Homo sapiens: one gene and its partners. The protein of the gene in region 3 purifies or fractionates together with the protein of the main gene of each other region. This does not show direct contact. Each region holds a gene or a part of one and is shown on either strand. Other genes may lie near its edges.

The links.
Region 1: the proteins of ZSCAN32 (region 3) and UBR3 purify together in Homo sapiens (affinity purification with mass spectrometry; 3 studies listed by BioGRID and IntAct, with this or other methods). This does not show direct contact.
Region 2: the proteins of ZSCAN32 (region 3) and SCAND3 purify together in Homo sapiens (affinity purification with mass spectrometry; 3 studies listed by BioGRID and IntAct, with this or other methods). This does not show direct contact.
Region 4: the proteins of ZSCAN32 (region 3) and CTH purify together in Homo sapiens (affinity purification with mass spectrometry; 3 studies listed by BioGRID and IntAct, with this or other methods). This does not show direct contact.

Annotation. Positions count from the first base shown.
Region 1 is NC_000002.12:169,823,133-169,830,456, forward strand, and holds the start of UBR3 (E3 ubiquitin-protein ligase UBR3), read left to right. Parts: upstream 1-4,321; 5' UTR 4,322-4,375; coding exon 4,376-4,920; intron 4,921-7,324. Other genes in the region: rRNA N(6)-adenosine-methyltransferase METTL5, read right to left, coding at 1,357-1,465. UniProt on the Homo sapiens protein: E3 ubiquitin-protein ligase which is a component of the N-end rule pathway. Does not bind to proteins bearing specific N-terminal residues that are destabilizing according to the N-end rule, leading to their ubiquitination and subsequent degradation.
Region 2 is NC_000006.12:28,570,281-28,577,304, reverse strand, and holds the end of SCAND3 (SCAN domain-containing protein 3), read left to right. Parts: intron 1-1,168; coding exon 1,169-2,661; intron 2,662-3,477; coding exon 3,478-5,394; 3' UTR 5,395-6,770; downstream 6,771-7,024.
Region 3 is NC_000016.10:3,390,981-3,398,004, reverse strand, and holds part of ZSCAN32 (zinc finger and SCAN domain-containing protein 32), read left to right. Parts: exon of another isoform or gene 1-260; 5' UTR 261-447; coding exon 448-813; intron 814-1,397; exon of another isoform or gene 1,398-1,632; intron 1,633-4,190; coding exon 4,191-4,356; intron 4,357-7,024.
Region 4 is NC_000001.11:70,406,546-70,414,272, forward strand, and holds the start of CTH (cystathionine gamma-lyase), read left to right. Parts: upstream 1-4,722; 5' UTR 4,723-4,870; coding exon 4,871-5,038; intron 5,039-7,727. UniProt on the Homo sapiens protein: Catalyzes the last step in the trans-sulfuration pathway from L-methionine to L-cysteine in a pyridoxal-5'-phosphate (PLP)-dependent manner, which consists on cleaving the L,L-cystathionine molecule into L-cysteine, ammonia and 2-oxobutanoate.

The DNA of each region.
Region 1 (7,324 bases), on a different chromosome or scaffold from region 3:
TACCACACTAGGCTAATTTTTTTTTTTTAAGAGCTGGGGTCTCACTGTATTGCCCAGGCTGATCTTGAACTCCTGGGCTCGTCATCCTCTTGCCTTGGCCTCCCAAAGTGCTGGGATTATAGGGGTGAGTCACTGTACTTGGCCAGATTGTTATTATTTTTTAAACTGGATTCCACTAAAAAAACCTACAGTCAGAAGACTAGTAAGTCATTATTTGAGAAAACTGGTCTTAACCTAGACACAGTAGTTTTGTGTGAATTTTTGGTTGGAATCATGACAGTATCTTGGAGTTAAGTGTAAATACACATGTATTCTCCTTGACTTTCATTGACAACTTAGAAACAACTATTTTGGAACTGGAAAAAACTCCTTGCAGGTACTCTCAGAAAATTAATTTTCCTAAGGAGCCAGCCTCAGTGGCTCATGCCTGTAATCTCAGCACTTCTTGAGGCCCCAGTGGGAAGATCGCTTCAGCCCAGGAGTCTGAGACCATCTTGGGCAACATAGCAAGACGCTGTCTCTACAAAAAATAAAAAATATTAGCCAGGCATGACGGTGCATGCCTGTAGTCCCAGCTACTCGGGAGGCTTAGGTAGGAGGATCACTTGAGTCCTGGAGGTCAAGGCTGCAGTTGCCGTGATCATGCCACTGCACTCCAGCCTGGGTGACAGAGTGAGACCCTTATCTCAAAAAATAATAATAATAAAATTTTTTTCCCCTAAGGTTTCCCAATGACTTCGGTAACATAAATATATGTTGTCCTGTATTCTCTCTTGTACTCCCAGTATCAATATCTGGCATGAAGCAACAATGCTAATGCTCAGAAAATCTGTTAAAATATGCATGCTCATCTTTACACAGCACATACTCTGATTTTGTTAAACTATCATTCCACTATCAACTCTGGTATTCATTTCTAGGGCAGAGTATATAGCACAAGAATCCTTGCGTAGGCAATTAGTAGCAATGGGAAACTGATCCTTATTTAGTAAATGTTTACTGAGCTCCTAAATAGTACCAGCGACTCTTCTGGGCACTGGGAATTCAAGTATGAACAAGTCTAACAAATTCCTTGTCCTCAGAGATTGTAATGTGAGAAGAGAAAAAAACACATTAAAAAGATGTCTGGCAGTGTTAAGGGATATGCAGAAAACTAGACAGTAAAATGATAGTGTGTATGTCTGTGGAGGGTGTGCCTTGAGCTGCAGTGTCAAGGAAGGCCTCTCTAACGCGACAGGTGATCTTAGGGCAGAATTTCTCTAGACATTCTCTGTATCCAAATAACTGTTCTATTTTTATCACAGAGTAGACTGGACTAACGCCGAAAGCCGGGGCGTGGTGAACCAGCCGCCCTACCTGCAATGTGCGGCCTGGTAGGATACTGTTCCAGAAGTAGCTTGGGCTTTTCAAATCCATCCACTTGTTGCAGGCGACTCTCTAGTTCCTTAAGCCTTACTTTCTTCATTTTGTTTTAAAGTATGGACTCGTAGGGTTTGAAGGCACAGGATCTGCGGAGAAATCTATTGAACTGGGATCTTGTTTCCTCCCTACCCCCAACCTTCTCCCTTTTTCAGCACCGCTGGCCGGACCCGAAGACGCGCCCTAAGGAGACGCCCGGACGCAGGGCACGGGGCGAGCCTCTGACCCACCTCCCGGCTAACCCAAGCCGCCCCAGGAGACGGCGGCGGCGCACTGCTGGAGCAGCCTCAGGATCCCTCGCGCCACGACCACGCACCTCTGGAGGCGACCCGCACCTCGGCCGGTGCCGGAAGCGCCAGGCCGCACGCGCGCACGCGTTCGCCGCCCAGCGGCCCGGCGCCGAGCTGCAGCGTTTATCTTGAGCCGGGGTTCCGCTGGCCACCTGGGGGCCTCATTGCCCCATCCCCTCCGCCTGCAAAGCCTGCGCTACTTGCTGACCCACCGCCAGTCCTCGCCGCCTGTCGCGTGCTCATTACCCTCTAGTTTGCCATGAGTACCTGCGGGCCCTCAAAGGATGGGGAAAGACAGAGTGAAAGGGATGCGGGAGAGAAAGTCACAGTCACTTTGTTGTATGGCCCAGAGTGACTCTTCTTGTTTCCCAAGTCTCGGCTCAAAAAGTAGCGATCTCCATTCACCTTTACCTCCTTCTCCATTCTCATGCCTTATTTTATTGTAACTTTGTTTCCCAATTTTTAGGTCATTTGTGTCACTTGCAATTCTCACAGGAGTGGTGATGTCAAAGAAACCCAAAGAAGAGATAGTGGAGAGGCAGGGCGCGGCGGCTCACGCCTGTAATCCCAGCACTTTGGGAGGCCGAGGTGGGTGGATCACGAGGTCAGGAGATTGAGACCATCCTGGCTAACACGGTGAAACCCTGTCCCTACTAAAATTACAAAAAAATTAGCCGGGCTTGGTGGCGGGCGCCTGTAGTCCCAGTTACTCGGGAGGCTGAGGCAGGAGAATGGCGTGAACCCGGAAGGCGGAGCTTGTAGTGAGCCGAGATCAAGCTACTGCACTCCAGCCTGGGAGACAGAGCGAGACTCCGTCTCAAAAAAAAAAAGACAGTGGAAATGAAAATAAAAGAATAGGTAGTGGTGTCAAATACTGGAAAGAGGTCGGGCTTCATAAAGTAGGAGCAGAAATTAAGTTGTAGCAGATTGTGGAGCGAATGGAAATTTAGGAAGAAGAAAGAGTAAATGTGAACAATTAAACGTGGCCCCGGAAGCGGTGGCTCACCCCTGTGATCCCAACATTTTGGGAGGCCGAGATGGGCGGATTGCTTGAGACGGGAGTTTGAGACCAGCCTGGGCAACATAAGGAGACCCTGTCTCTACTAAAAATACAAAAATTAGCTGGGTCTGATGACGCGAGCCTGTGGTCCCAGCTGCTCGGGTGGCTGGGGTGGGAAAATCGCTTGAGCCCGGGAGGCAAAGCTTCCAGTGATCTGAAATTGCGCCACTGCACTCCAGTCTGGTCGACAGTGAGACCCTGTCTCAAAAAAAAAAAAAAAAAAAAGAAAGAAGAAAAGAAAGAGAAAGAGAAAGGTGGCCTACGAAAAGAATGGTTGGATGCTTAGTAATGGGGGAAGCTTTATTATTTTTTCAATTATTTTTAAGACAGGAGGAGACAAATTCTGACAAGAATTGAGCTAATAGAAAGAGAGGGGTTAAAAATGCAAGAGGATATTGGATGGAGTTGGGATCCTGAGAAGGCAGGATCCAGTGGTTAAGTAAAAGGATTGCAGGATTGCGTTTAAGCCTGTGGATGGACACCTCTTTGCATTATTATAGGAAGAAGAAAAAGAGTGAATGGACGATGACGAAGTAGAGAAGTGTCTGAGGCTGCTACTTCTAGGAATAGCAGAATTCAAAGTTATCTGTTATGAGAATCAAATGAGTTAAAACATACAAAGTTTTAGCATGTAAAGTTAATACATAAAGTTTTATTTAGTTTATAATTTAGTGATTCGTAAAATTATTGAGCAAATTTAACTTATCACTGTTATATGATGATCGTGACATACTTAACTCATGTAGAAGACCAGGAATAACCTGTTTTAATTATGTTTCATTCATTTCAAACACAAGGTTATGGATTGGAAACACTCCTGTTCTTCTTTGTTGTTGTTGTTGTTGTTGTTGTTTTTAGAGACGGAGTCTCGCTTTGTCACCCAGGCTGGAGTGCAGTGGCGCGATCTCGGCTCACTACAACCCCCGCCTCCTGGGTTCAAGTGATTCTCCTGCCTCAGCCTCCGGAGTAGCTGGGATTACAGGCGTGCGCCACCATGCCCGGCTAATTTTTGTATTTTTAGTAGAGACAGGGTTTCACCATGTCAGCCAGGCTGATCTCAAACTCCTCACCTCAAGTAATCCGCCTGCCTCGGCCTCCCAAAGTGCTGGGATTACAGGCGTGAGCCACCGCGCCTGGCCTTCTGTTCTTCTTTGGATTGCTTTTCCTACAGTTTTTGTTTTCCTTAAGTTGGGGTTTCATTCTGTCGCCCGCTGGACTTTGATAACAGTAGGAATGTACATCTCAGACAAAATGCAGATGCCTAAAGTACATCTGAAAGATGATGTGAATAATTCCTGTAGTCTATGCAAATAAAGAAATAATTGCCCTTATTAAAGATTTCCTATAAGGTGAGTACTTTATTTCAGTAGCTCTTAACTTAGAAAGTTGGGAGCCTAGCTTGGTCCACAGGCGCCCAGGAGAGAGGGGCGGGAGGAAGGCTCTGCAGCCCGAGGGGGCGTGTGTAGGGGCGGGGCTGCGGGCGGAGGAGCGCGGACGCTCCGGGTATCGCGAGAGTTGGGCGGGCCGAGCAATCGCAGCAGTCTATTCCCTCACTCTCCCTGGAGGAGCCGCTGGCCCTGGACTCTCCAAATTCTGAGCTCTCATCATGGCGGCGGCGGCCGCGGCGGCCGTCGGGGGCCAGCAGCCGTCACAGCCCGAGCTGCCCGCGCCGGGGCTGGCCCTAGACAAGGCGGCCACCGCCGCGCACCTCAAGGCGGCCCTCAGCCGGCCGGACAACCGCGCAGGTGCTGAGGAGCTGCAGGCGCTGCTGGAGCGGGTGCTGAGCGCCGAGCGGCCGCTGGCCGCGGCTGCCGGCGGCGAGGACGCGGCGGCGGCCGGAGGCGGGGGCGGTCCGGGGGCGGCCGAGGAGGAGGCCCTGGAGTGGTGTAAGTGCCTTCTGGCGGGCGGCGGCGGCTACGACGAGTTCTGCGCGGCGGTGCGGGCCTACGATCCCGCGGCGCTCTGCGGCCTGGTCTGGACAGCCAACTTCGTGGCCTACCGCTGCCGGACGTGCGGCATCTCGCCCTGCATGTCGCTGTGCGCCGAGTGCTTCCACCAGGGCGACCACACCGGACACGACTTCAACATGTTCCGCAGCCAGGCCGGGGGCGCCTGCGACTGCGGGGACAGCAACGTGATGCGGGAGAGCGGGTGAGTGGAGCCCTCCCCGCGGGCGAGGCGACCCTGGGCCGGGGACGTCGCGGGAGGGCCTGGAGCGGAGCACTGGGAGCCCACTCTGAGCTGTCAAGGGGAGGGTGCGGGGGAGGGTGCAGCCACAGGGGGATGGAGGTGACTGAGCTGTCAGCGGTGGAAAGGGGGTGGGGAGGAGAAGGAGGGGAGAGGAGAGCGGAGAGCATGTTTAGGAAACCGGGCTGTGAATTTTGGGGAAGCCAGGGTGGGTAAATGATAGCGAGAAAAGAGCCAGTGTATGGGGTAGGAGGGGAGTGAGGGGAAATGATTTTTGGGGAAGCTCGTGTCGAGCTGTCAAGTGTGTACTTGTTGGGAAAGGCTGTAAAGCCTGGTTCTTGGGAAGAGACTTAGGTTGTGATTTGGATTGGCTGGGAGGGGATGTTATTGGGGACCGTATTGGCTCGCGGGATGATGAGAGCTGGGGAGGTGGTCTTGTACGTGCAGGGAAGGACGCTTGAGGAAAAGGTCTTCTGAACTGCCAGTGTGTCTGTCACTGTGAGAGAAGGAGCTCTTGAGGGTTGAGGGAGGAGGGAAGGGGAGGGGCCTGCATGAAAAGTGACTGTTGAGCTGTCAGTGGATTATTTGGTATGCTGGAATGACATTTAGAATTGGGCTACTGAGCAGTCAGTTACAGAATACCCTCCATACCAGGAGAACAAACAAAATACTGAGCGAACCAGGAATCAAGTGTTAGGTCTTCTCCAGTTAAGGGCACTTTGTTCACTCACTGATACGTGAACCTCTGTCTAAAAGGAGACAACAAATGCCCTTTTGACAGAAGCGATGCATCAGATGTTGGGACTTATGAGAAAAGACATTTCAGAGTTTGCAGTGAGTTACAGAGAGTTGGTACATGTAGGGTCGTGGCTTGGAACATGATGTCAATGTCAGGGACAGTCTGAGAAAAAAGGAAAAAGTGAAAGGGGCGATTTTGGATGGGCAGTAGTTGAAAGAATATTAGCAACTACAGGTTGCTATCAGTTATTAAACTTCTTCAATTTTCAGGTCTTAGGATTAATGACAGAGTACAATCTTTTTATAAATGGTCACCTTTTTCTTCGGAGTACTTGTAAGGTTACTGTTACTCCAAAATGTTTGTACCTACTATGTGCAAGCAAGGCTTCTTGGATATTAAAAATGAATGAAACATTGACCAACCCCTTACTCTACTTGCACTGGAGTAGAAAGTAATAAATTCCTTAAACAATAACTTGGTAGCTAGAGGAGGGAGATGAGGTTTCTGTGCAGAGGGAGTAAGAAAAAGTCTTCAGAAAGGAGGTATTTTGAATTTGCTAATAATAATAACAACATAATTGCAGCTAACATTTGAGTTTTTTTTTTTTTTTTTTGAGACGGAGTTTCTCTCTTGTTGCCCAAGCTGGAGTGCAATGGCGCGACCTCGGCTCACTGAAACCTCCGCCCCCTGGGTTCAAGCGATTCTCCTGCCTCAGCCTCCCAAGTAGCTGGGATTACAGTCATGCACTACCACGCCTGGCTAATTTTGTATTTTTTTAGTAGAGACAGGGTTTCTCCATGTCGGTCAGGCTAGTCCCGAACTCCCGACCTCAGGTGATCCGCCCGCGTCGGCCTCCCAAGTGCTGGGATTACAGGCGTGAGCCACCGCGCCCGGCCAACATTTGAGTTCTTGAACTGTATGTCTGATACTTTAAAAGTACTTTTTAAAATTTAATATTTGAATAGGTAAAATATATAGCTAAAAAGTACACACACACACACACACACACACACACACACACACACACGGAAGTTTTTCTCACATCTAGTCTTCTATCTGTCCAGTTCCTTCCCGCTTAGTTTCTCTTGGTGCAGAACAAGCAAAGATGTTTCCTAGTTTTTCAGTCTCTTTTTATGCAAAGGGTTACATACTTTCCACTGTTCTACATCTTGCATTTTTTGGTTATCTTAGATGTATTTTTCCTATTAAAAAATCAGTGTCGTCATTCTATTTTTTTAAAAAAACTGCTGCATAGTGTTCCATGTTTTCAATTTGCCATTCTTTAATTTCTTTTTTTATTTTTATTTTTATTTTTTGTGCGTGTGAATTTGCCATTCTTGATTTAATGTCTCTTCATGGGCATTTGGCTTTCCAGTATAAAATTAAAAACGTGGTGTATCTGTCTTTTCCCCACCTGGTCAAGAGAGTCAGTGGGATAAATTCTCAAAAGTGTGATTTCCAAATTGCCCTCCCTAAGGCTTAGTACTAATTACTCTGTGAGACTGCCTGTTTTCCAACAGCCTCATCAACAGAGTAGTAGTAAAATTTTGGACTTTTATCTATTTGGTTAAAAGTGGCCAAATTCTAGCTGTTTTATGTGATTTAACTTATTTATTCTTTGACTCTGAG
Region 2 (7,024 bases), on a different chromosome or scaffold from region 3:
TAGAGATGTTATGCTAATTCCAAATTATTATTTTTTACTTTTTCCAAAATAGTTTTTTTCCTTAACACTTAGCCAAATTTGAAGTATTCTTAGTGTTTCTGTTATTATGAGTATTCTAGAAATTTCTTTTAATAAGCTTTATTAAGTCAGAAATTTTTCACTGATTTTGACTCATCCAGTACTCTTATTAAAATTAGTAATGAAGCTATTTGTATTGAGTTTGTAGTTAATAGCCCTAAAAGGGAGCTGATATGAATATATTAGGTTGGAACTTACTCCTCAAATGTTGATGTAATAGCTAACCTGACTGAATAAAAGAGAAAATGTGTAGTGTGGAGATTTTTTTAAAAATCTATTATTGTCTTGCTGAGGTTCCTCCAAAAAAAAAAGTCTGAGACCGGGTGTGGTGGCTCACGCCTGTAATCCCAGCATTTTAGGAGGCCAAGGCAGGTGGATCATGAGGTCAGGAGATCGAGACCATCCTGGCTAACACAGTGAAACCCCGTCTCTACTAAAAATACAAAAAAAAAAAAAAAGTCTTTGCATAGTAAACAAACAAGTAAATGTTAATTTGCATCCTATTTTACATAAAACAGTGCTTCAATCCTGAAAACTGCTCTGGAAATTCATGTCCTGGCTTTCTGCTCTTTATTGTTTGAAACTTTTTGTTATTGGCTGGAGTTTCATTTACGCTCTTCATTCCACCAAAGTTGGATTCCTTAATCAAAATGGTATCCCCCTGGCCTGGTGCAGTAACTCACGCCTGTAATCCTAGCACTTTGGGAGGCTGAGGCTGGCAGGCAGATTGCTTGAGACCAGGAGTTCAAGACCAGTCTGGCCAACATGGTGAAACCCCATCTCTACTAAAAATAAAAACATTAGTCAAGTGTCATGGTGCGCACCTGTAGTCCCAGCTACTCGGGAGGCTGAGATAGGAGAATTGCTTGAATCTAGGAGGCAGAAGTTGCAGTGAGCTGAGATTGTGCCACTGCACTCTAGCCTGGGCAACAGAGTGAGACTCTGTCTCAAAAAAGAAAGAAAATGGTATCCCCTTTTGTGTGTCCATATTCCCTACTTCTACCTCAAGCACTACTGGCTCCTTTGGCAATATATGTCTTTTAAATTATATTCCTGAATATTCTAATTGATTTTTTTCCTTTGTTTTTAGGGTCATTTTTGTGGTTTTCCATGATGTCTCAAAGCATGGGTGGTGATAACCTCAGTAGCTTAGATACTAATGAAGCAGAAATTGAACCAGAAAACATGAGAGAAAAGTTCTTCAGAAGCTTAGCAAGGTTACTGGAAAACAAAAGTAATAATACTAAGATATTTTCTAAAGCAAAGTACTGTCAGTTGATAAAGGAAGTGAAAGAAGCTAAAGCTAAGGCGAAAAAGGAATCAGTTGACTACCGTCGCTTGGCTAGATTTGATGTTATCCTTGTACAAGGAAATGAGAAGCTAATTGAGGCTGTAAATGGGGAAACAGATAAAATACGGTATTACTTACACAGTGAGGACTTATTTGACATTCTGCATAATACACATCTCAGCATTGGACATGGTGGACGTACTCGCATGGAGAAAGAGTTACAAGCGAAATACAAGAACATCACAAAAGAAGTTATAATGCTGTATCTGACCCTCTGTAAACCATGCCAACAGAAAAATTCAAAACTCAAGAAGGTTCTAACATCAAAATCAATTAAGGAAGTTAGTTCAAGATGCCAAGTAGATCTTATAGACATGCAGTTGAATCCTGATGGGGAGTACAGATTTATTTTGCATTATCAAGATCTCTGTACAAAGTTAACTTTTTTGCGGTCATTAAAGTCTAAAAGGCCTACGGAAGTTGCACATGCTCTTTTAGATATATTTACAATTATTGGAGCACCCAGTGTCCTACAATCTGACAATGGGAGGGAATTTTCAAGCCAGGTTGTCAGTGAACTCAGTAATATTTGGCCAGAATTGAAAATTGTCCATGGGAAGTCTCAGACCTGCCAAAGCCAGAGTTCTGCAGAACAAACTGAGGATATCCGAAAGAGGATTTTCTCCTGGATGCAAACTAACAACTCATCACACTGGACTGAATTTTTGTGGTTCATTCAGATGTCCCAAAATCAGCCCTATCACAGAAGCATGCAACAGACTCCATGTGAAAGTGCATTTAGCTCTGAAGCTAAACTGGGCTTGTCCCATTCTCAGCTAACTGAAGAACTTGTTGCCAGCTTGCATACAGAAAATGAATTAGATCAGGCTGACAAAGAGTTAGAAAATACTTTAAGAGCCCAGTATGAAGAAAACATTGAGACTGGAACAGACAGTAGTGATATTGAAGAGAATCTTTCTGTCACTCCTAAGGTGGCTGAAAAAAGCCCTCCTGAGAGCAGACTAAGATTTTTATCCTGTGTAGTTTGTGAAAAAGAATGCACAGGTGTTAATAGTTGTATATCATGTGATGGAAATATCCATGCAATTTGTGGAGTGCCCTCTCAACATGGGACTGAGGGCTGTGGTCGGCAAATAACTTGTAGCCTTTGCTATGAAACCAGCACAATGAAGAGGAAACATGATGAGATTCAAAGAAGTTTGCCTGTTAAACCTTCCAAAATGCTAAAGCCATCAGGGACACCATTTTCACCAGACAAAGTAGGAGACTGGGTAAGATTGAATATCTGCCGTAGATGAAAGCAGGGGAAGAATCTCATTACAGTGTACTGTGAATAAGTGTTGTGTGACAAGGTATATGAAAGCACATTTTTATTACCTTGGATATATTTCCCCCAAAGAAGGCCTAATTACTTTTAATGCTTCTTCTCAAATCAAGTGAAGAAGTATTTGTAGGGGTAGGGGATGATAAATTTGCTTGGAAGATATGGGTTTGTGTTGGGAAAGACTTCAGTTTGGGAATTTAAATGGAGAGCATGAAATAGAACCAAAAAAATTTAAAATCAATAGGCTTTATGAAGTAGGGTTAATGTTTTGAAATATGGAGGTTACTTATGACTTAAACTAGTGGTACGCAACATGTGATCAGTAGAGCAGTACTGGTATAAAAACTCCAGTCCATAAGGAAATAAATATAAAAATTAAGCGTAAATATTTAGAAACCTTTATAACAATTGACATTACTGCAACATCCAAGCACATGATTAATGGACTCATCTTACTGAATAGAATATAGACCAATTTAGGTATTGTTAAACTCTCAAGGTGAGTCACATGTGGTGGCAGTTACACACTAGTCAAACACAATAGGTCCCCATTACAACCTGTGATACTTTATGTTTCGTTTATCAGCCATAACCCAAAGATGTATAAAACTCTGAGAAAATATAGGCATTTATTTATTTTTATAACTTAACTTTAAAATAATTTTTTATTTTAATCAAATCTAGTTTTTAACTTGTGGTATAACACTGTTAGCTGAAGGAGGAAAGTAAAATTCATATTATTTACTTTTATTCCTAATTTCAGATGGCGAAACAAGCTTCACTGGACTTTTTTGTCAAGAAAAGACATGCCTTTTCTGAACACAGTAGTAGTAATAAAAGAAATGTTAACAATAGAAGTTATCCTGAAGAAGGGAAAACCAAAAGAGTTCATGCTAGTTTCACTCGGAAATATGATCCTTCATATATTGAGTTTGGTTTTGTAGCTGTAATTGATGGTGAAGTACTAAAACCACAGTGTATTATTTGTGGAGATGTACTGGCTAATGAAGCAATGAAACCATCAAAACTTAAGCGACATTTATATTCAAAACATAAAGAAATAAGTTCACAACCAAAAGAATTCTTTGAAAGAAAGAGTAGTGAATTGAAAAGCCAACCAAAGCAGGTGTTCAACGTTTCTCATATAAACATTAGTGCTTTGCGGGCTTCATATAAAGTAGCACTTCCGGTTGCCAAGTCTAAAACACCATACACAATTGCTGAGACACTAGTGAAAGACTGCATCAAAGAAGTTTGCTTGGAAATGTTGGGTGAATCTGCAGCAAAGAAGGTAGCTCAGGTACCACTTTCCAATGACACCATAGCTCGACGTATTCAGGAACTGGCTAATGATATGGAAGATCAACTCATAGAACAAATAAAACTAGCAAAGTATTTTTCATTGCAACTTGATGAATGCAGAGATATTGCTAACATGATAATTCTTTTAGTCTATGTGAGGTTTGAACATGATGATGATATAAAGGAAGAGTTCTTTTTTTCAGCCTCTTTGCCTACAAACACAACTAGCTCAGAACTGTATGAAGCTGTAAAGAATTATATTGTTAACAAATGTGGTTTGGAATTTAAATTTTGTGTAGGAGTATGTTCTGATGGTGCAGCTTCAATGACAGGAAAACATTCTGAAGTGGTAACCCAGATTAAGGAACTTGCGCCAGAATGTAAAACAACACATTGCTTCATTCATCGAGAAAGTCTTGCCATGAAAAAAATATCAGCTGAACTAAATAGTGTACTTAATGATATAGTAAAAATTGTGAATTATATAAAATCTAATTCATTGAATTCAAGATTATTCTCTTTATTATGTGATAATATGGAAGCTGATCATAAGCAACTGTTACTGCATGCTGAGATACGGTGGTTATCACGGGGAAAAGTTCTGTCAAGAATGTTTGAAATACGAAATGAACTCTTAGTGTTTCTGCAAGGCAAGAAACCCATGTGGTCCCAACTTTTTAAAGATGTGAATTGGACAGCCAGACTTGCTTATTTGTCTGATATCTTCAGTATTTTTAATGATCTTAATGCTTCTATGCAAGGGAAGAATGCAACTTATTTTTCAATGGCAGATAAAGTTGAAGGACAAAAACAGAAGTTAGAAGCTTGGAAAAACAGAATTTCTACAGATTGTTATGACATGTTTCATAATTTAACAACAATTATCAATGAAGTAGGTAATGATCTTGATATTGCACATCTGCGAAAAGTTATCAGTGAACATCTTACAAATTTGTTAGAATGTTTTGAATTTTATTTTCCATCAAAAGAAGATCCACGCATAGGAAATTTGTGGATCCAAAATCCATTTCTTTCATCAAAAGATAACTTAAATTTAACTGTAACTCTACAGGATAAGTTGTTGAAGCTGGCTACCGACGAAGGATTGAAAATCAGTTTTGAAAATACAGCATCACTTCCTTCATTTTGGATAAAAGCTAAAAATGACTATCCTGAGCTTGCTGAGATTGCTTTAAAATTGCTGCTTCTTTTCCCCTCAACATACCTCTGTGAGACCGGATTCTCTACTTTAAGTGTTATTAAAACAAAACATAGAAACAGTTTAAATATACATTATCCCCTGAGGGTAGCATTGTCATCAATCCAACCTAGATTAGACAAATTAACAAGCAAGAAGCAAGCTCACTTATCACATTAAAAGCTTTAAATATTGATATGTAAGGTATTGGTTCAAAGTATGCATATAAGCATTGAGTGTGAGGAATTTGCTATTTCACTTTAAACTTTCTGTCTAGTTACAGTTATGGAAGTATGAGAAGTTATGAGTGAAACAGCAATTTTCTATATAAATTGCCTATATGTATATTTTCAATTAAGAATGTGTACAGTTTTTATAATTCTATTTTTCCTCATATTTGTCGTATTTATTAAAATATAATTTTAAATCTGTTGATTCTAATATTAAAACATTTGATCTTATATTTTGTGTCTTCTTCTTGTATTTCATTAGCATGTTAAGATTGTAGGACAACTTCAGGATGGGAGATGGTTTCTTTGAAATAGACAAGGTCAGTGAAAGGAAGTGAATTCAAAGGGGTAGGCTTAGAATTCAAATGCAGGGGACAGGTCAGTAGGGTATGAAGTTTGTTAAACTGATCCAGAGTGGTTAGGTTGGAAGTTGATGTTGTTTGTTTTGTAGGTGCATGTTTAGACAAAGATGGAAGGGAACACTTATTTTGTAATGGTGTTATGGCCTTGGATTCATATTGATAAATTTATTTACTTATTTATTTTTGAGGCAGGGTCTTGCTCTGTTGCCCAGGCTGGAGTGCATTGGTGCAATCTCTGCTCACTGCAACCTGTACCTCCTGGGTTCAAGTGATTCTCTTGCCTCAGTCTTCCGAGTAACTGAGATTACAGGCACCCACCACCATGCCTGGCTAATTTTTGTATTTATAGTAGAGATGGGGTTTCACCATGTTGGCCAGGCTCATCTTGAACTCCTGACATCAGATGACCCTCCCACCTCGGCCTCTCAAAGTGCTGGGATTACAGGCGTGACCTGCTGCGCCCGGCCGATAAATTCTGATTTCATAAGGATGGGCGATTGGGCCATACTGACAAGTTTATGTTAGGTGGTTTCTAGATTTTGCTAGAACTGATTGCCTTTAAGGTGCTCTGGGACAAAGTCAGAAATTATTGGCACCTCAATTAGATTTAACAACCTCTATTTTGTTTGGAGATGATTCAGAAAAATGCCACAAATATCTGCTCTTGTGTCTGTGAACTCATTTAGAATAATCGAAAGCAAATTAGTCCGATAAAACAGGTTCTTTAGCATCAAAACATGACAGAATCCATGAAGAAAATATCTTTTCCTAGACAGGGTAGCAATTTACAGTAAGTGCTTCGTTTCAAATAAATGTGATATTCAAAGTTAAGGAAAGGAAGGCTATTTAGTGATTCAGAATGTTACTAATAATTTAACCTTTTGGTAATGGAAGTTTCAAGGATCCTCCAAACCTTTGAAAGTAGAGGAAAGGTTCATATTTAGTCCTGAAACCTTAATTGGATTATGTTTTATTGTGTGTTTGTTTTAATCTTACAGCTTTTCAAAAACAAAAAACCTTATCATGGTGGATAGATTTAGAAGACAGTGGTTTAATTTCTCCCACTGACAAATTATATGCCCTCTTTCTTATCTGACCATATTCTAGAACTAAGGGATTTTAAAATGTTTTACAGTTTGTTTTATTGATTGAATAAAGTATTGTGTTTCCCATTTTTAATTTCAAAAGGCAATGTGGTGATTTTATATTTATTTCTAT
Region 3 (7,024 bases):
AGGAATGACCAACGGCAGTTTGGAGGTTAAAAGCAAGATGGAGTTGGTTAGATCCTATCTCTTTTAGTGTCATAATCTTCTCACTGTTAATGGTTTTTGCAAAGGCAGTTAGCCAGGATGGTCTAGATCTATTTCTAGTGTTTTGGATCCTTGGTGTAGATTTGTGGAGGGAGTAAAGGAAAGGGATAGGAAGTAAATCACAAGAACCAGAGTGAAGGAATGTTTGATAGGTTTATATTGTCTTTTTCCATCCTCTTCAGACATCCTTCAAAGTTGAGCCCTTTTTTTCCGCTGTGAGTCTCTACACATGTCTGACACTCTCATGTCCCACGGATTACAGAAAGACATTCCTTGCAGGAGAACATGGCTTCCCAGTGATGTGGGAAAGATGGACTCTGATCTCCAGGGTAGAAGTGGCAACCAGAGTAAGCCAGTTCGTTGAAGCAAATGATGGCTGCAGTGAAGAGTACCGAGGCACACCCATCCTCAAACAAGGATCCCACACAGGGCCAGAAATCAGCCCTCCAGGGTAACAGCCCTGACTCCGAGGCCTCCCGTCAGCGCTTCAGGCAGTTTTGCTACCAGGAGGTAACTGGCCCACATGAAGCTTTTAGCAAACTCTGGGAACTCTGTTGTCAGTGGCTGAGGCCGAAGACCCACTCAAAAGAGGAAATCCTGGAGCTGCTGGTTTTGGAGCAGTTTCTGACTATCTTGCCAGAGGAGATCCAGACCTGGGTGAGGGAGCAGCATCCAGAAAACGGCGAGGAAGCTGTGGCTCTGGTTGAGGATGTACAGAGAGCTCCTGGACAACAGGTGAGAAAAGGAAGTCGGAACTTTGTGGTTTTGGTTATGAAGTTGTCGGGGAATCCAGTTACTGGAGAGGTGCTTGGTTGAGAAACACACAGTAGCCCTCTGCTGCCCACAGAAGGTCTTGGCTGTCTTGGATTGGTCCTATGCCCTTATAATACGGGAAGAATTTCTCATCTGTGGATACAGCTGCTAGACATTCATATATTTAATAATATTTGAAGTCCCTAATTAAGGTGGTAAAAACACTCAGAAAAATTCTCGAAAACAAGGCCAGGGAAAGGACAACTCTCCTTCACTCAGGGGATGGAGGAAAACTAGAGATGCTAGTGAATGAAAATCTAGTTTCATGCTAGGAGCTTCTTTGAGGGCAGAGTGACATGTGTTGTACACTCAACAAAATTATATTAGAGCCAGGCCTTGCTCTAGTTCTTGATGCCGGGATTAAGTGTTCAGTTTGGGACACTGATGGATTCATAAAATATCCTCTTACGGTCAGGACTAGGTCTGAGATCTGATTGGTGTAACCAGCTTATATTTTCTTGGAGCAGGGAGGTGGGAAAGGCACAGGAAGAGGAAAAGTAACATACCAGCTTCGGTTGTGGAAGAGTTGGTAGGAGGAAGGCAACTGAAATTGGGTAAGTCTGGGAGAGGCCTAGAGTAATGGAGGGCACAGGTCAGAGGAACGTTGGTCAGCCTGAGTGGGTCTGTGATCAGAGCAGGAAGCAGCTTGCTGGGTGCCAGAGTCTGCATGGCTGGAATGGGAAGGCCCTAGGCAGCAGATATACTTGTGTTTCCCAGTGAGGAGGTAGGGATGTGCACGGGCTGTGGGAAGAGGAATGGGTGAAGGGGGATATAGATGAAATTTGGTAGGATTGAAGAGTTAGTACTTTTGACTTAATTTAGAGAGGGGAAGAGCAGCTTGATGGTGATGCATCAGGGAAGAAGTTCAGGAAATTAGTCTGAAATCTGTGGGATTGGGACTCTTATTCATAAGTAAGATTGAATGGAGAGGTGCAGTAGCACTTGTATGAAGGTAGAACTTGGAGAACTGAACTATTATAAATAGAGTGGGAATCCCAGTATGCCAAGAGTCATCCTAGCCCAGTTCCCCTTCCATCACTCTGTTTGATGGTCTCTCCTCTTCTTATCCTTAACCATGTCGGAATCACACTTATGTTTATTTTATTTATTTATTTTTTGAAAGGGTCTTGGTCTGTCACTTAGGTTGGAGTGCAGTGGCATGAATGCGGCTCACTGCAGTCTCAGCCTCCTGGGTTCAAGCGATCCTCTTGCCTCAGCCCCCCAAGTAGCTGGGACTACAGGTGCACACCACCATGCCCAACTAATTTTTGTTTTTTATTACAGGTGAGGTTTTGCCATGTTGCTTAGGCTGGTCTTGACCTTCTGAGCTCAGGCAGTCCACCCACCTCAGCCTCCCAAAGTGTTGGGAATACAGGTGTGAACCATTGTGCCCGGCCCACACTCTTAATATAAAAGAAAACAGTGCAGGAGTGTATAGGTTAAACACCTATTTGAAACCTAATTTATTAGTCCGTTCTCACACTGCTATAAGGACATACCCGAGACTGGATAATTTATAAAGAGAAGAGGTTTAATTGACTCACAGTTCTGCATGGCTGTGGAGGCCTCAGGAAACTTACAGTCATGGCGGAAGGGGAAGCAAACATGTCCTCCTTCACATGGCAGCAGGAAAGAGAAGAATGAGAACTGAGTGAAGGGGGAAGCCATGAGAACTTACTATCACTAGAGTAGCATGGAGGAAACTGCCCCCATGATTCAATTACGTCCACCGGGTCCTTCCCATGACACGTGGGGATTATGGGAACTACAACTGAAGATGAGATTTGGGTGGGGACACAGCCAAACCTTATTACCTATCATGAAAGTGAAGGAGAGAGCAAGAAGTGGAGGTGGGTAGTAGTAATAGAGGTTGATATAATTTCTCAGGACCCCACTTGCCTCTCAGTACCTCTCTTCATTCCCTTTAAGGGTGTTTGTTATAAGCATGGGACTTAAAGAATGAAGATGGCTCTGAAAGACAAAAGTTGATTTTCAGTGACCGTTGATATTGAGGATTTTACAGTGAACAGGACAGGCACGGCCCCTGGCCTGCTGGAGCCCGCGGTCCATGGGGGAAACAGACAATCATAAATCAAAAGTAAACCATAAAGATCGTTTCAGATGAGTGCTTGGAAGGAAATGAGCAGAGTGATGTGATAACTGGAGTGTTGGGAGATAGGCTGTGAGGCAGGACTTCTCTGAGGTGACACTGAAGGAGGAGAAGGAACCAGTTGTCCCAAGAGCTGGGAGGAGAGTACTCCAGACAGAGGGCACAGCACATACCAAGAGCCTAAGGTGGGAAAAGACTGGGCGGGTTTGAGAGGAAGAAGGGAGGGCTTGTGGCTGGAGCTCAGAGACTGGGGAAGAGTGCTGTGAGAGAAAGGGAGGAGGCCGGGCAGAATGATGCTGGGCCTTTTAGGCTGCAAAGAGGAGTCTGGATTTTATTCTGTGTGCAGTGGGAAGCCACTGAAGAGTGCTGTTACTACGGAGGGACAGGACTCTAGATTTTAAAAAGATCACACTGGGTTCCATGTAGAGAGAATGGATTGGAGGGTCCAGCAGTAGAGAGGATGCAGACAGCAGATAGTGTCCTGGACCCTGATGGAGCCATGAGGTGAAGAGAGAGGACCAATGCGAGGTCTCTTTTGAAGACAGAACTGATACTGGATTTGGGGGGCAGAGGAAATGGCCTAGTGCTGAAGTCATGGGGGTTTGCTAAAGTGAAAGCTGACATTCTCTCTTCTGACAAATATATTTCAGTTTTTAACAGTTCTGGTGTGTCAGGCTCTATGCTAGGTGCTGTCATATAAATAATCTTAACCACTTCAAAGAGTTTTTTTTTGTTTTTGAGACAGAGTCTTGCTGTGTTGTCCACGCTGGAGTGCAGTGGCGTGATCTTGGATCACTGCAACCTCCGCCTCCTGGGTTCAAGTGATTCTCCTGCCTCAGCCTCCCAAATAGCTGGGGTTACAGATTCACACCACTACACCCAGCTAATGTTTGTATTTTTAGTAGAGACGGGGTTTCTTTCACCTTGTTGCCAGGCTGGCCTTGAACTCCTGACCTCACGTGATCCACCTGCCTCGGCCTCCCAAAGTGCTGGGATTACAGGCGTAAGCTACTGCCCCTCAAATACCTAATTCTATTAATTTTTATTTTATTACAGCAGCAATACAGTGGCTCCTAGATTTTTCTCTTCTGCTTCCTTATGTTACACATTTTTTAATGCCACTCTTAGGAGTTGTAAAGTCCAGCTTAGGCAGGAATTTGTAGTGATAGATAATGGGGTCTGTTCTCAGGTTCTAGATTCTGAGAAGGACTTGAAAGTACTCATGAAGGAGATGGCCCCTTTGGGAGCAACCAGAGAATCACTGAGATCCCAATGGAAACAGGAGGTTCAGCCAGAGGAACCGACTTTTAAGGGATCACAGAGCTCACACCAAAGACCAGGGGAACAGTCAGAAGGTAAGCAGAAGCCTCTGTCCTCACCTGAGGCAGGTGAGGAACAATCATTTACTGGAAACAAAGGTCTGAACTGAGTCCACCCAAGGGTTCCAGACTAAATGCCTTTGAAATACATCCAAAAACCGGCAGGGCGTGTTGGCTCACGCCTGTAATCCCAGCACCTTGGAAGACCAGACAGGCGGATCACCTGAGGTCAGGAGTTCGAGACCAGTCTTGCTAACATCGTGAAACCCCGTTTCTACTAAAAATACAAAAAATTAGCTGGGCATGGTAATCCCAGCTACTCAGGAGGCTGAGTCAGGAGAACTGCTTGAACCCAGGAGGTGAAGGTTGCAGTCAGCCAAGATCGCACCACTGTATTCCAGCCTGGGCTGTCTCAAAGAAAACAAAAAATATATATATATATAAAATATATAAATTTATATATATATATATATATAAATATAAATATATATATAAATATAGAAATATATATATAGAAATATATATATATCTCTCTCCATATCCAAAAGCAAGATTACAAATTTCAGTTGAGGGTAATAGCACTTAAAGTAGGAACAGAGATTCTTTATGTGTTAGCATAATTCTTTTTTATTACAATTCTGTTACTAAAGAATCAGGTGTCATTAAAGGTGAACATGGTTACCTTCACCTTCTGCACAGCAGTTTTTCATATACTTGAAGACATTAAATCCCCTTCCCCATCCAACTTAATCTTTTCCAGAATACATTTTTATTATTTTTGCTTTTCTTCCAGAGCTCTATTTTTTGTTTTTACTTGTCTTAATTTTTTTAGAAAACTTTTTTTGTTTCTTTGTTTTTTGAGACGGAGTCTTGCTCTGTCGCCCAGGCTGGAGTGCAGTAATGCGATCTTGGCTTACTGCAAGCTCTGCCTCCCAGGTTCACGCCATTCTCCTGCCTCAGCCTCCCAAGTAGCTGGGACTAAAGCACCCGCCACCATGCCCGGCTAATTTTTTGAATTTTTAGTAGAGACGGCGTTTCATCGTGTTAGCCAGGATGGTCTCGATCTCCTGACCTCGTGATCCACCTGCCTCGGCCTCCCAAAGTGCTGGGATTACAGGCATGAGCCACCACGCCTGGCCTTAGAAAACTTTTTAAACTAAAAAAATTATCTTGGCTGGGTACAATGGCTTATGCCTGTAACCTCAGCACTTTGGGAGGCTGAAGCGGGAGGATAGCTTGAGCCTAGGAGTCGAGACCAACCTGGGCAACATAACAAGATCCTGTCTCTACCAAAAAAAAAAAAAAAAAATTGTTTTAATTGAGGTGAAGGTCACATAACATAAAATTAACCATTTCAATGAACAATTCAGTTATGCTTAGTACATTCACAGTGTTATGCAGCCATCACCTCTGTCTAGTTTCAAAACATTTTTATCCTCCCGAAAAGGAAACCCTGTACCCATTAAACAGTTGCTCCCCATTCTGTTTCCATGGATTTACCTGTTGTGGACATTTCATATAAGTTGAATCACATGTATTATGTGACGTTTTGTGTCTGCCTTCTTTCACTTTTCATGTTTTGAGCATGTATCAGTACTTTGTTCCTTTTGATGGCTGAATATTCCATTGCATGGATATTCCAAGGGTCTATATTTTTATAAGTCTTTTTCCATAAAGTAATTTGGCTAGATACTTGCTGCCTTTTCTGTTTAATTGGAAGCTGCCATTACAGGTTGCTAGGTAAGTTTTTTTAAGAGACAGGGTCTTGCTCTGTTGCCCAGGCTGGAGTGCAGTGGTGGCATCATAGTTCACTGCTGCCTCAAACTGCTAGGTTCAAGCAGTCCTCCTGCCTCAGCCTCCCAAAGTGCTGGGAATACAGGCATGTGCCACCACATCCAGCCTGAAAAACAGTGTGTCTTGATGATGTTTAAGTTGGCAAACCTGTGTTGATAAACTGGAAAATTGTCTAAGAGATTTTAGTATTTTGTTTTTTTTTTTTTTTTTTGAGATGGAGTTTCACTCTTGTCGCCCAGGCTGGAGTGTAGCGGCATGATGTTGGCTCACTGCAACCTCTGCCTCCTGGGTTCAAGTGATTCTCTTGCCTCAGCGTCCTGAGTAGCTGGGATTACAGGCGCCTGCCACCACGCCCGGCTAATTTTTTGTATTTTTAGTAGAGACAGGGTTTCGCCATGTTGGGCAGGCTGGTCTCGAACTCCTGACCTCAGGTGATCTGCCTGCCTCGGCCTCCCAAAGTGCTGGGATTACAGGCGTGAGCCACCGCGCCCGGCTGATTTTAGTTTTTTTTTAAGCAAAGTTAATACTCTTGTCAACATCTTTATAAACTTTGCCACTTAGCATTTATTTCCTTTTAATCCTTGGGAACACCTGTGTTCTCTGTGTGTGATTTCCAAGGCTTTGGGACAGCAGGGGGCTGTAAGTAAAGAGAAGCAGGACTTGCTGCCTTCCAGGCTAGGCTCCCGCTCTTCCCAGGCCCATGGGCCACTCACAGATCTGGAGTGTTGTCACCTCCCGAAGGGTCACATACCTCTGAGTTGCCACTGAAGTTCCATTAATAAGTCATAGACATGATTCATTTTATTTGTACAATTTTTTTAATTTTCCTGTATTTTTAAGCGATGTCACAGTCATATTTGTACAATTCTTGAAGTTGGAGACTTGAGAAAAAATGTATTATCTTGGTGTG
Region 4 (7,727 bases), on a different chromosome or scaffold from region 3:
TATCATTGTTCTCAACTGGAGTTGTTGTTTTGTGATTGGAAATATGTGGGGTTGTGCAACTAGCCACCAGGGAAGATGAATGCCCTGCAATTAGCCAAACAGTCCCGCAACATGGAGAATTGCTCCCCCTAAAATGTTTTCTCTCTGATATAAAGTTATAAGCGAAAGTCAAGAGCTTTTCAATTGCTGCATTACTAGTTGAATAAGACATCTGCATGCCTGGATAGTGCAAATTACCTATCTTTTTTTTTTTAAATCTCTGTGCCACTTATGAACATTGCAAAAGATATTGCTTACTTTCTGTATTGGGTCACACGACCTCTGCATAGTATTCCTCTTCAAAGGTACTGCAAATATCAGTTTTGATAGAAAAATATCAAAAGTAGCTCTCTGACCTAAGTGCTTCCCATTTATTCTACTTGCCTTATACCCCTTTCCTGGCCTGCCAGATGCTTTTAAGAACCTATTTTTGAGAACTGCCAAGTATTATTTTACCCATTTTACAGAAGAAAGTGAGACTTACAGAGATTAAGTCAATTGCTCCCTCAAGGTCACAGAGACAGCAGGTTCCAGAGGTGAGCTTCAAACCCAAGCATTCTGACTCCAAACTTCAGGTGCTTAACTGCTATGTCTGAGTTGTTATTTATATTATGTTTTTCAGTCATATTTGACTCCTTTTACATCATTGTGGAATGCATCCAAATGATTTTGGGATTACTTCTTCATCTTAAATGTCTGAAGCTGTACTCAATTCTCAGCCTAGATACTCGCTATATTAATATGAGTATGTCGCTTATCTTCTTTGTATCTATCACTAAAAGAAAGCAATTGTGCTAGAAATTTGCTCTCCAGTGTCTCTTGATATTAACTTTAATAATTCCATCAACAATATCTAGACCTTTTTATTCTCAAGACATATAATTTTCAATTATGCCATATCAAAACATAATTGATATGATTGCATAATATCTTTTTGTTACTATTTTAAAAAATTGTTTCCACCAGGAAGTGAAGGTAGGTGTCATAAGTGCTATCTGGCTTGGTGCAGTGGCTCATGCCTGTAATCCTAGCACTTTGGGAGGCCAAGGCAGGTAGATCGCTTGAGCTCAGGAGTTCAAGACCAGCCTGGGCAAGATGGTAAAACTTCATCTCTACAAAAAAAACCCACAAAAAATTAGCCTGGCATGGTGGCGCATGCCTGTAGTCTCAGCTACTTGTGGGGCTGAGGTGGGAGGATCACTTGAACCTGGGAGGCAGAGGTTTCAATGAGAGCCAAGATGGCACCACTGCACTCCAGCCTGGGGAAGACTGAGACCTTGTCTCAAAAAAAAAAAAAAAAAAGTGCTATCTGACAGGCTTTGGCCCATTGTAGTAATCTACAAGTCTACCAAATTTAGATCTTATATTGTAATATCTTCTTTCCCCTGATCCCCAAATTCCCTTCATAATTCTCATTATTTCATTGACAAAAGCCCAAGGATGAACAAATTGTTTTCTTTTGAGGTAAAACAAAACAGATCTAATAATTGCGTATGTTTATGCTTGATAATAATAATAATATATTTTATGAACATCCCTCCCAAGTCCCGATTGCACTGTTTTGATATTCAGTCACGGTATCTTTATTCATAGCCTGCCTTTAATGAGAATAGTAGAGGTCTTTGTGCATAAACACAAGAAGTACAGTGCTATTTTCATAGTGTTTAAGAAGTACTTATTATAAAATAATGTACTCTGTGTTTTATAAAAGGATCAAACAGTAAAGAAATATAAAAAATGAGAAGTTTCCCATTTCCTCTAAAATATCTGCTTTTGCTGAATCTCCTTCCCAAGAAGAATTAATAATTCTTCTGTAAGTGTTATGATATTTTGTTGTATGCAACATAATTTATATGAAAAATTAGCACACACCTCAAACTATATACCATTTATTGGATTTAAAGTGGCTATCATTTAATCATTTAAAAAGCTTTTTTTCTAAATACAGTTGTCTTTCTAAAATGTTTAAATTAGGGTTTTTGGTAGTATTATTATTGTTGAAAAGGTAATATGTGCCCATGATATAAAACTTGAACACAAAAGAGAATAAAATGTAAAGAAAATCACCTTTCCACTGCAGATCCATAGTCTCTATGACCAGAAGGATTTTTATACATATGAAATCATAAATATCTGTCTGAAAATAATGCAACATAGTATATATTCTTTTGAAAAAGTGGAAGCATGATGTATACGTTACTTTGCTTTGCTGTCTTAGATATTAGAGATCAATAGGCCAGGTGTGGTGGCTCATGCCTGTAATACCAGCACTTTGGGAGGCCAAGGCTGGTGGATCACTTGAGGCAAGGAGTTCGAGGCCAGCCTGGCCAACATGGTGAAACCCATCTCTACTAAAAATACAAAAATTAGCCAGACATGGTGGCTGCATCTGTAGTCCCAGCTACTTGGGAGGCTGAGGCAGAAGAATCTCTTGAAACCTGGAGGCAGAGGTTGCAGTGATTCGAAATGGCACCACTGCACTCCAGCCTGGGTAACAGAGCGAGACTCTGACATACCAGCACATCTCAATCTCTTCCTGCTTCTTGGCCATACTGTAGCCATCACAGAGTAGTATCATAACCAGTTAACCAGTCTTTTAAGAATGAATAATTAAGCCATTTTTCACTCTTTTGCTATTAAAAATAGTAACGTAGGTTTAAAAAGCATCCTTGCTCATCTCTGTACACATATTAAGAATATATCTAAAGGATAAATTCCTGCAAGTAAAATTTTCTACAAAAGAAATTGCTGAGTCATAGAAAGGGGATATTTTAAATCCTTGATACATATTAAGCTGCATCCAATAAAGTTTTCTCAGTTTAAGAGAGTAAAAAAGGCCTGATTTATAGCATTTGTATTGGGTGCTATCTTTTTTTTTTTTTTTTTTGAGATGGAGTCTCACTCTGTGGCCCAGGCTGTAGTGCAGTGACATGATCTCGGCTCACTGCAACCTCCGCCTCCTGGGTTCAAGCGATTCTCCTGTCTCAGGCTCCCAAGGAGCTGGGATTACAGGTGTGCACCACTACGCCCAGCTAAGTTTTGTGTTTTTTGTAGAGATGGGGTTTCACCCTGCTGGCCAGGCTGGTCTCGAACTCTTGACTTCAGGTGATTCGCCCACCTCGGCCTCCCAAAGTGCTGGGATTAATAGGCGTTAGCCAATGCACCCAGCCTAGTGCTGTCTTCTGAATGATTCTTTATTACAGTACACTAAATAAAATGTCTGTATTTATGCAACTCAGGGTTTGTCAGCAAATATTAGGAGGTAAAACTAATTGGAACTGTTTTAGACCCTTTTGGCCCCTAAATGCCATATCATATTACACAAAAATACCCACCTATAGTTATACATAAATATTGAGGTGAGTTGCAGTTGATGTTATATTTTTAAAAGAAAAATATTAATTAAATATGTATTAATATACATTAGTGTTTTGAAGTCTATCCATTTTTTCCCCCAGCCATACAAAGTTTGGTAGGATTCTAAAAGCTTGTAGGCCCTCAAGCACCACTCCTCTAGTGCTTAATGGGTTAAATGTCCCTAAAGCTAATTTGAAAAGCAAATTGCCTCATTCTTTCTCTTCATATCTTTCTTTCAAACTGTAAATTTTAAGAGCTGTTTATTCCTTATTCTCCTTGTTCTTAATTTGTTTAATAAAGTTTTAGATCTTTAGCGAATATTTTGCAACAACAGAAATATCCCCAAATTTCCTGGTGCTAGAAAACAGCCACAATAGTAAGTAGGTCAAGTCTGTATTGCTTAGGGAACAGGGAGATTTTTGTTTTAAAGCAGTGATTCTTCTGAGAGTAGGGCTCTGGGCGCAGGTGAGTGGTAAACAATCCTTTTTCCTGCAGGGATGTTGCTGTTGTGTAAAAGCAAAAGCATTTTGTGTAAGGATGTTAGGCTCCAGTAAGTATTTCAAAGCCACATTATCTTTCTCATTAGGGGGAGTTTCTCTCTGTACTTTAAAAGAAGATAATGATGCTTGAAAAAGCTCAAGATTGACTAACTTTTAGGAAGCTGCCAGAGTTGTGCATAGACGTCCTCACTACAGTAGCTTCGTTATGTCTTACGAACAATTTAACCTTCACTTCTAGTCATCGTTTCGTCATCGTAAGCACTGGGTCATTACAGAGTTCAGTGTACCTAAAACGCAAGCTGTGACTGATGAGAATCCAAGCTGCAAACTGGGCGGCTTGGGCAACTGTTTTCTTAACCACCCTCCACGTTGTGGCTTACGTCTTTTAGCACCGCCCTCAGGGCAAAGGATGGTGGTCAGAGGTAACTACCACAGTAAAAGAAGGCTATTTATGTGGTCTGTTTACAGTTACCCGGTTTCAACACTAAGCCAGCTTTCCGCCACGTCTCGGGCGAACCTCCGGCCTGAGGTCACAGAGACGCCCGGGTGGCTCTCAGGAGCCAGCATGGCAGCCTCCTCAGGACGGGTACTCAGGAATTTCGCCCGCAGGGACTAACACCACTTGGACCCAGGGACTCCAGCTTCACTCCGCTTTGTGCACTGGGTGGGGCGGTCGCGGTGACGTTTCAGGCAACGCCTCTGCTGTCAGCCAATAAGGAGCGGGAGACGCGTCGGGCCTGCGCTCAATGGGCCGCGCTGGTCCCGCCCCACTGTGATCGTGAGACTGCAGACCCGCTAATAAAATCCACCCCAACAATCGCTGTGTGCCGCTTTAGTGCGCTCGCCGTCGGCTCTACCTGCGTGCTTTAGCTCCTTCTCGCCTGATCCTTCTGTCTCTCCCAACCCCGGACACCCGGCTTCGACTGGTTATATCTTCGGTGTTCTTTTCCTCTCTTCTTCTTTCGCGGTTCAGCATGCAGGAAAAAGACGCCTCCTCACAAGGTTTCCTGCCACACTTCCAACATTTCGCCACGCAGGCGATCCATGTGGGCCAGGATCCAGAGCAATGGACCTCCAGGGCTGTAGTGCCCCCCATCTCACTGTCCACCACGTTCAAGCAAGGGGCGCCTGGCCAGCACTCGGTGAGCTGGGTCTGTCTGGGGCTGTCCACAGTTGGGCGGTAAAAGAGATACGGCTTATGAATTTGAAAGGCATGTAAGTAATTTATAATATGACTTATAAATTAGGAAGGCAACCGAAAGATGTTTCTACACTGTAATTCTTGCAGCACAGCTTTGTATCGGATGGTCCAGTGATCGTATTTCTTTTGATAAGCAGGACTGGAAGGAGCCGTTTGTCCAGCTTGCCATTTAGATTTGGCCTGAAATTCAGGTGATTTTGACAAATTTGCAATTAAAAATCGAAGGTCATAACTTTTTTGAGTTACCTTTAGCAGCATAAATTTTAAAGATGTAGTACGGAGTCAGCTTAAAAAATATTAAGGGTCTGATAACTTGACTAGAATTAAGATTGTTTCCAGTAGCTGTATGAATAGTTATTGAGTACCTACTATATGCCAAATACGTGCTCGTATATATCATGTGTATTACATGTATTGTCTCATCTAATCCTAACAACAACCCTAGTCTGAACCGAATTCTCATTTTTTCCCAATAAAGAAGCTGAGATTTAGGGAGTTAAGTAACTAGCCTTAGACTAGTAAGTATTGGAGATGGAATTCAAACTTTAGAAACTTGAGGTTGCTTTAGGAACCAACTCCTAGGCACTCAGCTACACTATGCTATCTCTAATAATGCTAGTAACAATTTAGCCTATTGCGTCATTTAAGCACTGTGGCTTAGTGATTAAGAACACAACTCATGACCGGGTGCAGTGGCTTACGCCTGTAATCCCAGCACTTTGGGAGGCTGAGGCGGGTGGATCACCTGAGGACAGGAGTTCGAGCCCAGCCTGGCCAACATGGTGAAACCCCATCTCTACTAAAAATAAATAAATTAGCTGGGCATGGTGGCGGGTAATCTCAGCTACTCGGGAAGCTGAGGCAGGAGAATCGCTTGAACCCAGGAGGCAGAGGTTGCAGTGAGCCAAGATCTCACCATTGTGCTCCAGCCTGGGTGACAAGAGTGAAACTCCAACTCAAACAACAACAGAAAAAGAGAACACAAATCTTATAGTCAAAGGCTAGGTTTGCATTCTGACACCACTTCTTCTGAGCTGGGGGACCTTGGGCAAGTTAGTTAACCTATCAAAACCTCTGACTGATCCTGTATAAATGGGGATAATAATAGTATCTACCACATAAGTTGTTGAGATGTATTTAAGGCTGTATAGTACATAATAATTACTCGATGGTAATTTGTTTTTTCATGATGTTCACATTTACACTATTTCCATTTGATCCTCACAACAACCAGGTCAGAAGGCAGGACAGGTATTATGTACTTTTTATAGAAAAGGAACTGACACAGAGTCATACATGAATGATCTGTAAAGCCTACGAAGGAGCCCTCTTTGTTAATCACATAGCTTTTTTCCCCCTTTTGGTGGCATACTTGATGGATCTTAGAGAATTTAAAAGTTGCTGAGATTTGTAAGAATTAGTTAAAGTCTGTAAGTCCAAAGCCTTGATTATGCTTTGGAAACCACTTCAGTGTGTTATATAAGTTGAGGAAAATCCTTACAGACAGTCCCTTGTTTTGTGAGATACAGTTCTAAGGCCATTTCTACAACTGGTTTAGAATACTCTTTACTGTATTTTAGAATCAAAATATGTACACAGCCTCTCTTTCTTTCTTTCTTTTTTTTTTTTTTTTATTTTTCAGAGAGAGTCTTACTCTGTCACCCAGGCTGGAGTGCAGTGGTGCGATCTCGGCTCACTGCAACCTCCGCCTCCCGGGTTCAAGCGATTCTCCGGCCTCAGCCTCCTAAGTAGCTGGGATTACAGGCGCCTGCCACTGCGCCTGACTCATTTTTTATTTTTTTTAGTAGAGACGGGGTTTCACCATGTTGGCCAGGCTGCTCTTGAACTCCTGACCTCGTGATTCACCCGCCTTGGCCTCCCAAAGTGCTGGGATTACAGGTGTGAGCCACGGCGCCCGGCTCACAGCCTCTCTTTCAAACATGCAGTTCGTTTCTTGTGTAGGGTTTAATGAAAGTGTAGCTGCCCAAGCTTTGGAACTTAGTGCAAAAGTTTACCATTCAGGTGTGATATTAATAATTAAATGTTTCCAGGAAGCCAGCAGGGATGGTTAAATCCACAAAAACTCTGCTTAATATCTTTTTTTTTTTTTTTTTTTTGAGACAGAGTCTTGCTCTCTTGCCCAGGCTGGAGTGCAGTGGTGCGATCTTGGCCCACTGCATCCTCCACCTCCTGGGTTCAAGTAATTCTCCTACCTCAGCTTCCCGAGTAGCTGAGATTACAGCTGCCCGCCACCATGCCCAGCTAATTTATTTATTTTTAGTAGAGACGGGGTTTCACCATGTTGGCCAGGCTGGTCTTGAAATCCTGACCTCAGGTGATTCACCTCTGAAAGTGCTGGGATTACAGGCATGAGCCACCGCGCCCGGCCCTTTTTAAAAATCAGCTAAGACCACTAAAGGGAATTTGAAGAGCTGAATGAGAAACGGGAGGTACCTTTCTGTGGCAGAAGCCACGTGAATCCAAACTTTTTTTTTTTTAATCTGCAGGGTACAGCTGCAGGTCATGGTAAGAAGGTGATGGTGGGGAGGGGTAAGGATATCCTGGAGCCCTATAAAATATGTCTGCTCAGGTTGGGCGCGGTGGCTCACGCCTGTAATCCCAGCACTTTC